3 linked regions of the Homo sapiens genome follow. The protein of the gene in region 1 purifies or fractionates together with the protein of each later gene. This does not show direct contact. Each region holds a gene or a part of one and is shown in the gene's direction. Other genes may lie near its edges.

The links.
Region 2: the proteins of INVS (region 1) and CEP164 purify together in Homo sapiens (affinity purification with western blotting, with the first as the bait; one study listed by BioGRID). This does not show direct contact.
Region 3: the proteins of INVS (region 1) and PINX1 purify together in Homo sapiens (co-immunoprecipitation; one large-scale study listed by IntAct). This does not show direct contact.

What each region holds. Positions count from the first base shown.
Region 1 is NC_000009.12:100,300,459-100,302,675, forward strand, and holds the end of INVS (inversin), read left to right. Parts: intron 1-109; coding exon 110-216; 3' UTR 217-1,717; downstream 1,718-2,217. Other genes in the region: TEX10 (testis-expressed protein 10), read right to left, coding at 1,733-1,846. UniProt on the Homo sapiens protein: Required for normal renal development and establishment of left-right axis. Probably acts as a molecular switch between different Wnt signaling pathways.
Region 2 is NC_000011.10:117,386,854-117,390,353, forward strand, and holds part of CEP164 (centrosomal protein of 164 kDa), read left to right. Parts: intron 1-349; coding exon 350-559; intron 560-3,500. UniProt on the Homo sapiens protein: Plays a role in microtubule organization and/or maintenance for the formation of primary cilia (PC), a microtubule-based structure that protrudes from the surface of epithelial cells. Plays a critical role in G2/M checkpoint and nuclear divisions.
Region 3 is NC_000008.11:10,833,376-10,836,875, reverse strand, and holds part of PINX1 (PIN2/TERF1-interacting telomerase inhibitor 1), read left to right. Parts: intron 1-2,100; coding exon 2,101-2,210; intron 2,211-3,500. UniProt on the Homo sapiens protein: Microtubule-binding protein essential for faithful chromosome segregation. Mediates TRF1 and TERT accumulation in nucleolus and enhances TRF1 binding to telomeres. Inhibits telomerase activity. May inhibit cell proliferation and act as tumor suppressor.

The sequences.
Region 1 (2,217 bases):
TCCCAGGGATAGCCTAAACCGAAATCCTTCTTCCTCAACACCAATGAACTATTCCCTTCAGCCTTAAAATTAATAACCTTAATATCTATCTGGTATTTGTTTTTAACAGTGAGCAACCTACAGTGTATACATCTCCTTGAGAACAGTGGAAGATCAAAGAACTTTTCTTATAACCTGCAATCAGCTACTCAGCCAAAAAACAAAACAAAACCTTGACTGCCTATGGAGGAAGACTGTGTTCGGGGGAGCTGGCATAGCTAGTGCAGAGTTCAGATTTTCTGCTGATAATCTTTTACACCTTGGGAAAACTTTAATATCCGTACCTGAAGGCTGATTCACCTAAAAATGTGTTAACTGAAAGAAAATGTCAGAATGTTTCCTTTCTGCTCTTACACAGCATTGTTTTGTCAATCAACACAGCCTGCACTGAAAGGACCTGCATAGACTATGTCTGTGCAAAGTGCCTGAGTGTCTGCTTTCACCTCAGTCTGTACAGTTGGAAATGAGAATTCATAATTAACAGCAAAATCTAAGGAAAACTACGGCTGCTGGGTTGGGATTTCTGCCAGCTAGCTGGTACTGGCTTCTTGTTTCAAGAGATGAACCTAAATGAGATAGGAAGCCTGTCCCATAGCAGCCTTCCTCTCACTACTTTCCTGGCATCTAATGCAACAAACTTATCACACACACACACACACACACACACACACACACACACACATATCACGTCCCACTATTACTTCAAAATTAATCAGGTTTAAATTTTAGATCAGAATCATTGCCCACTGTTTTCATTTAGAAATTGTCCAAAAGACCATAGATACATTCTGGTGATTCCTTACATTTTACAGTTCCTACGTTAGCCTCTCAAGGCCACAAGTTGCCGCCACGTCTTCACTGAATGGCTTTCTCAGTGCTGAATACCAACAGCCGTATTACAGTATCAAGGATTCTGTCAGGTAGGGTTTACAGACCAGACTGTTCATGCAGCAAGGTGCTAACTCAGGCGTCAACGTTCTACTTGTATTTTCTGACCAACTTGCAGAAGTGAGCAATCTTCTTAAAATGCCATTTCTGTTGGCAGGGAAGAATGAAACGGCACACATCCTAGCATTCTAAGAACACCTGGTTTAAATAAAATCCAGTGATGATGGGCTCTTTCACATTGTTTAAGGGGAAAGCTGCTGTGAGAATATTGACAGTAGGCATAAACAGTGATATATTTTACTCACAGGTATTTTGGGGGTTGCTTTCATTTTCTTCAGATCAGTGCCACTTCTGTGCTAACGGTAAGAGATAGACAGATAGGCAATGAAGTGTTCACTTAATTACCTTGGTTTTTAGTTTACTAATTATTACATTCATCGTTTTTGTGATCACAAAAACACAAAGAAGGAGGTCTGCCTGGATGGAATTACAAAGATTTAGCCAGTTTCTTGGTATATAACAGAAGGTACCACAGTATCACTCTCTATTTTGTAAATATTTAGCTCCTATGAAATGCACAATGCACAACCGCCTATGACCATGTATCGTGTGCTAGTCCGGGAAGCCAGCCTACACATCAATAGGAACGCCCAAACATTATTTTCATATATCAGTGCAAAGAAAGAAGGTTCGTAAACTTCTTTAAAAGTTCAGCTTTAATGACAAAGATCTATTACATCAGTCTTTTTCTTCAAATAAGATAGATGTGAATAAACAACTTCAAACAGGAGGTACTATGGCCTCTTCAATACACTGTAGCCAGTGCACTGGGCCCTTGGGGATGCCCAGTGATATACACGTTGAAGCAGTAATGTAAGTCTGTGAGCCACTGTTCCTGAACACTTCCACTCTTCAATGTCTGGAGAGAAAAACAAGAGTAATCTGAGAACTGCACCCAAATCACTATGCTACCTGACAGTATTTTTCACACCCAAACACAATTTCCCAGAGCTTTGGCAACTGTATCCCCATCTGTAAATTACCATAGGAAGTCTTCCAGGAAACAGGGAACTATTAATTGGGCATTACCACAGGCAGTGAAAATTCCTAGTTATATCCTCAAATGCTAATGGTTTCTTGTTAAGTCTGTTCCCTCCTGCACATGCTAGAGACTAATGAAATTTCACCACCAACCATCCCTTCACCCTTGCCTCTCCCTCTTGCCATTCTAGTGTCTCATGATCTTTACCCCAGTGCCAACTGAGAATAACTCTACAGGGCCAACCAACA
Region 2 (3,500 bases), on another chromosome or scaffold:
GAAGGAATCCATTAGGGACAGAGCTTCACTCTCTCCCTGCTGCTGCCAGCTCTTGAGCCGCAGCTTCAGATTTTGATCTTGGGCCATAACCTCGTAAGTCTGCTGAGAGCCTGCTATGGGCTACCCTTCTCCCTAGGCTCTTGGGGCCTTAAACAGCCACAATGGGGCTTGTCCTATGGAACAAGCATTGACTGTATCTCTTGGCCTGCCCTTGGGTGACCTCTTTGACTCCTGATTGTGGGCCCTCCATTAGGATTCCATCTGTGATGTTCCGTATCCATTCTAACCTGGATGCAGAGGTGGGTGGACATTAACCCTGTGATGATATGCCATTCCCCACCCATGGTAGGCGATCCACAGAGCCTGTGGCTCCCCCAGAGCAGCTCTCAGAGGCTGCACTAAAGGCCATGGAAGAGGCAGTGGCCCAAGTACTCGAGCAAGACCAGAGGCACCTGCTGGAATCCAAGCAAGAGAAGATGCAGCAACTGCGGGAGAAGCTGTGCCAAGAGGAGGAAGAGGAGATCCTCCGGCTTCACCAGCAGAAAGAGCAATCTCTCAGGTCCTGCCCTTCCCCTTAGGCATGCTTCCTGGGGCCTTTCAGGGATGTGAGGAGCCAGGGACACCCTCTTAGCCTGGGGACCACTGGGATGCCCATGGTTCTACTAAGACCAACTAAAGTTGGGAAACTTGACCCAACAATTTCTGCTTATATCTCATTGGTTACACCTAGTTGCAGAGAACACTCGGAAATGTAGTCCTTTAGCTGACCTCTTTACCCCGTAGAATAAAAGCAGGGTTCTGTTGGTAAGGAAGAAAGGGAGAATGGATATTGAGCTGTTAATGAGCCATCTGTCACAGTCCCAGGTTGGGAAAGGTACTACAAAAAGGTGTTAACATATTTCATTTACTTGGCAATTTAACTAAAGGCTAAGTCTTGTCCTCTTGTACAGAACATCCAAGAGTGGTAGAAAATTATTATTTTTAGATGATACCTAGCAAAGTATATATAAAACATTTATGCTTAATTTAGAGAATATAAAACAGAAAACCAACATACAAGTACTGGGAAGGTTGGAGCAATCTCTCATGAGTCCAGCGCAGGAAGCACTGACATAGGGTCTGTCCTTATATCACATCCTTGTGGGTCCTCCACCAGGGAGCATCCCAAAGAACAGACACCTCCAACCCCCTAGCATCCTCCAACCCCCTAGCATCCTCCTCTTCCAGCCAACTGAGAATTGGGGCAGGGGCCCACCCAAGCAGGATGTGACTCACCTTAAGGTGCAGCACCTTGGAGGAAATCCTGGCGCTGTGTCCCTGCCAGCCCACCAGTCTCCTCCCCTCTTGCTGGCCACCCTGAGCTTGGCTGACTGTGCTTTCCATCTCTCTCCCGAGGCCCCTGACTCCAGAGGCCCTCTTAGGTTGTGGGGAAGACTGGCATGCTAGAAGTGTCTTGATTCATGGCCTGGAACATAGCAGTTGCTGAACAAATGGTAGCAATTACTTTTCAATGGAAATCAATGCATATTCAGGCATTCTTGACTAAGTGATTTCTCTGTGGACACTGCCTTCAAGGCCTGGCTTTCTTCAAACTAGTTCATCACCAGAACCTGTTTCTGTTTATGCCCAAGCCTTTCTGAGGAATGGGCTCTCCTTCCGTCTGCTGGGAACTTCCATGTGGTAGAAATTTCTGGAAGCCACAGCTGATCTTGTAACAAATATTTCTGGAATGAGAAGGCAGGCAGGCTGGCCCTTAGCTTCTTTCACTGTAAAATGAAGGGATTGGACTTAAAACTTCTAAAGTCCCTGCCAGCTCTAACACTGTGTTGCTGTGTGTAAAATTTAGCCATAGGACAAAGAGAAAAGGTTTCTGGGGAATCTAGAAGGAAGGATTTTTACTTAATTCAAATTTTCTCTCTTTTTTTTTTTTTTGAGACAGAGTCTTGCTCTGTCGCCCAGGCTGGAGTACAGTGGCTTACTCGGCTCACTGCAAGCTCCGCCTCCCAGGTTCACGCCATTCTCCTGCCTCAGCCTCCCAAGTAGCTGGGACTACAGGCGCCTGCCACCATGCCTGGCTAATTTTTTTTTTTTTATTTTTAGTAGAGACGGGGTTTCACTGGGTTAGCCAGGATGGTCTCGATCTCCTGACCTGATGATCCGCCTGCCTCGGCCTCCCAAAGTGCTGGGATTACAGGCGTGAGCCACTGTGCCCGGCCAAATTTTCTCTCTTAATGGAAAAAAGTAATGATGTTAGTATCTTGAAATAGGAAAGAATCCTAAGTCTTTTTTTGGCTTTAGGATTTGCTACAGAAGCTTTTCAAAGGAATTGTCTTCCGAATCACGTTTTTCCTAGGTTTGAATTCCCTGAGCGCACAGCACACATCCCCTGGTCGTGTGGGGCTGTGTGAGGAGTTACCCAAAAAGGATGTGGTTTGTGTAAGCAGGGGGATGTCTGCTTAGGATGAAATGGCCACTGTTGTTGGTGTGTAAATAAGATAACCTTTCATAGATATCACGGCTTGCTTATAGTTTGGGGCTGGATGATGCTGTTCAAATTCAATTAATTTATTAAGCACCTACTTTATGTCAGCTACTATGTGTGGTACCTGGGATATAACAGATTTTAAGACAAGATTCTTTCTCTTGAGAAGCTCCCAGACTTGCAAGGAAAACAGAGATACAGAAGATGAATTATGATGCCATGTGACGCATGGTGCAGAGTAGCATGGGATAAGAAAGGTCCACATGTAAAGTGATGGGAACAGAAAGATGAATTGATGAGCTTGTAGGGAGTTGGAAAGACTTCCCAGAGAGGGAGCTGAGTGTTGAGGAATGAATATGGGTTTGCCAGATAGAAAAGGGAATTCTTGGCAGAGAACCTAGGAAGGAAGAGTGTGGTAGAATGGAGGGATGGTGACTCAGCTGATGTGGCTAGAACAGAGTCTGTCGGAGTGAAAGAATGTGGAATCTGGTTGGGTGGCTATAGCTATCCTTGAGTGAGTGCCATGCTGAGGTGAAGCTGTTGACAGAGGGGAGCCTTTGGAAGAAGTGCTGTACTACCAAAACCCAGAAGCCAGTAGTTTGCTTTTTTTTTTTTTTTTTTTTTGGAGATAGAGTCTTGCTCTGTTGCCCAGGTTGGAGTGCTGTGGTGTGATCTCAGCTCACTGCAACCTCTGCCTCCCAGGTTCCAGCAATTCTCCTGTCTCAGCCTCCCAAGTAGCTGGGATTACAGGTGTGCGCCACCATGCCCGGCTAATTTTTGTATTTTTAGTAGAGACGGGGTTTCGCCATTATGGCCAGGCTGGTCTCGAACTCCTGACCTCAAGTGATCCACCTACCTCGGCCTCCCAAAGTGCTGGGATTACGGGTGTGAGCCACCACGCCCGGCCATTAGTTTGCTTCTTGAAGCAAAGGGGAGTTCATGGTCCCTTCGTAATCCTGGGAGGTATTAGGGAGGCAGCAGTGGACCTAGAGGCTAAGGTTAGACTCATCTTTAAGAT
Region 3 (3,500 bases), on another chromosome or scaffold:
GGGAAATGTTCCAGGGAAGCAGGGTTCTGGTCAAGTGAAGTCTGGGAAGCATGGCAGGCCTGCTCTGGCCTCCTCTAAGAGGATCTGCACATTTGCATAGTAAAGTTTCCGGGAGATTCTTCCATATGAAATTTAGTTTAACCCAGTGTTACTCATTTTCAATGGGAAACTGCCACCCCCCGCCCCCCCAACATCCTTGTTTGGAAACACTGGTGTGATCCCATTGATTGAAGCTAACTGCCATTTTCCCAGGGGAGAGGAATTGACCTTGAATAGCTAATCTCTTGTGTAGGCATTATAGTTTGTTTTATATAAGTAGGTAATGTGAAGCGTGTGCAGTTCTTAACTGCAGAGCGTGAGCTTATTCTCAAAACTGTCTCCTTCGTACAAGCCCTAGTCAAAGACCCCTGGCAAGCACTGCATAGACACATGAACTCTGACACACTGATGCCAGCTTGCATATAGAATACTGGCTAACAGGCTTCTCTCTGGTGTGTTGTTCATTAGCAGACGCAGTGTTATGCTGAGTATTTGCCAAGATAAGTAAAGTGGTAATTTAGATGGAACATTTTTGGGTCACCTTTTTTTTTCTGCAAAACACTACAAATTCGAGCCCAACTTGTTTTGCTTTGTTAAGGGCCTTTTTTTCTGCCTGTGTATTTGTAAAGGATTTCCTATTTTTGCTGGAGTGTGCATAGTTATGGGCCTCTATTGATTTTATGTGTGCCACAGTGAGCCCCTTTGACAGGGGGTCATGTTATTTTTTAATTATGTGATGAGATGGGCAAGGTAGGAGGGGTTGTGTTGATGGTGAGACAATGTGCTTATATTGATGTGGCAGATAAATGATAATGACACCTCCAAATTTCTCATTTCGCCACAGTCTACTTTTCAGTTTGACATTCTTGTGCTTTGAACCTTTGGAGTTCTTTATTTTTGCCATAATTTTCCTTAAAACGACAGTGATAAACTGGAGTTCATAATGATCAGTAATTTATATGCATTAAAAAAAGTTGCTTTGATGAGATTCAAAGCAGTTCCCTTAATTCAGTTATACTCCTTCCTTCCTTTTTTCCTCTCCCTCTTCTTTCCTCCTTTCTTCCTCTTTCCATTCTTCATTTTTATCGTTTATTCCATTCACATATTTATTGAGTGCCTGCTGTGGGCACAGTGATTTTTTTACTTCTTGCAATGAAGCCTCAGAAAAAAGACATGAATATGAGCCCTAAGGAGATGATGGTCTAATGGGAAACCGGAAAGGCGGATATAAATAGCCCTAATACAGTGGATGTTAAGAAACAGATAAGTTATTCTAGAAGTTCAAAGAGGGGTCAGAGGGCTTCAGGGCATCTCAATGAGAGGGATGGGATTGTTATTATCTGTAGGTCACATGTGTGGAGGGTACAGTTGACTCTCCCCAAGAGCATAATGACTATTGTATGTTGTGAATTAAGAATATAAGCTTTGAAGTTAGTAGGACCAAGGTTGGTTTAAAGGATCTGGTTTTTGCTTGGGGATGTTCGGCAAATTTCTTTCTCTAAGCCTCAGATTTTCATATCTGCCAGTGACAATGGTACTATCCACACTCGTTGGGGTACTGTGAAAACTGAATATTATGTACAGCGTTTGGAGCAGGTCTCAGGTTGAATAATTGGCATTTACTATTTTAAGCGCATCCTTGGTATTGCATGTTCTTTTGTATGTAGTAACGCATGGCAATGGAAGCTGTAATGCTGCTGCTACTACTGCTGATGGTGATGAGGATGCTGGTGTCCACAGGTGCTTTCAGTTGTGCTGATGGCGGAGTATGGAAGGCCCAGCTCTAGTATATTGAGCATTTGCTTTGCCACATTATGAGGGAACATTTCAGTTTTAATCTTAAGAGGTCAACTTATATGTCTAGAATATACATTTATTAGGGAAATCAGGATAAATGATCCAGTCTAACATTCTGTTGAGTGTTGAATTAATTTCTGTATTGTAATGTATGTCATATTTTACATACATACATAAAATACACAAAGTTGTGCATGTGTATGTTTGTGTGGTATTTTCCGGGTATCATCTCCATTGCTGATGATAATGCTTTTTCATTTACAGGTCGGCGGAAGCAGAAGTGGGCTGTGGATCCTCAGAACACTGCCTGGAGTAATGACGATTCCAAGTTTGGCCAGCGGATGCTAGAGAAGATGGGGTGGTCTAAAGGAAAGGTATTTTGGAGAAAAGCGGAAAAAAATCTGAGCTATGAAAAGAGATTAGAAATTAGGGGAAAACTTCCTTCTTAGGAGACTGGAAGAAACTTATGCTTTGGATCAGTAAGTGATTTTGATCCCAAATCAAAAATTGTTGTGACCTTATGATGATAAATTAGGATTGGACATAAGTGTCAACTTTCTATCATTTAAGCTGCCATGCTTAGCATCTTTCATAGACATTGCAACTAGGCTACACGCTTTTTCCCTTTCCATTTATTCTTGACTCCAGTAGAGCCTCTGCTGATACCTCTACACTTAAATGGTTCTTGTTGAGGTCTTTAGCGATCTCTAAGTGCCAAATCAGTGGGCCGCTTGTTTTGTTCTCACATTACTTAACTCCTCAGCAGTGCTGGATGTAATTGACTACTCTCTCCTTGAAATACTTCTGTCTTGGCCTCCACAGTGCTATTGTCTCTTCTGCTCTTCTTTTCACCTCACTTGCCACTCCTAAATTTGTTGCTGTCTCTTCTTTCTATAGACTTTTGATTATTAGGGCTCCTTGAGGCTCAACCTCAGGCCCCTTTTTTGCACTTTGCTGCAGTGATCTCATTCATTCCCTTGCCACACTTTGAATTAGCTAAAGTCTGGGAACTGTCATTTTTCTATATTGAGTCCAGTTCTGTCCTCTGAGCTCTAGATTTGTAAATTCAATAGCCTACTTGATATTTCCACTTGAGTAAGCATTTCAAGGGTATCATTTCTATTATAAAACTCTTGATTCCCCCAAATATATTTTTCCCAGGTTTTCCCCATTTTTCATACATGGCACCGTCTGCCACTTACACAAGCCAGAAACCTGACAGTCATGCTTGATTCCTCCGCCCTCTTGCCTCCCGCAGCCCAGTCGTCGTTTTTCTCCAGCCTCCCGCAGCCCCAGTCGTCATTCTTCTCCAGCCTCCCGCACCCCAGTCGTCATTCTTCTCCAGCCTCCCGCACCCCAGTCGTCATTCTTCTCCAGCCTCCCGCACCCCAGTCGTCATTCTTCTCCAGCCTCCCGCACCCCAGTTGTCATTCTTCTCCAGCCTCCCGCACCCCAGTCGTCTCTTCTCCAGCCTCCCGCACCCCAGTCGTCTCTTCTCCATGCAGGGCAGAGCCCTGCTTCAGCCACTGTCATCACTTGAGCTCACTGACTGGTCAGACTCTCAGCTGCCTCCCTTCCTCCCTCCTTTTTCTCCTCTGGCCCATTTGCTGTACAGCAGCCAGAATGATCTTTTAAAATATGGAAATTAGATCATGTCATCCTTA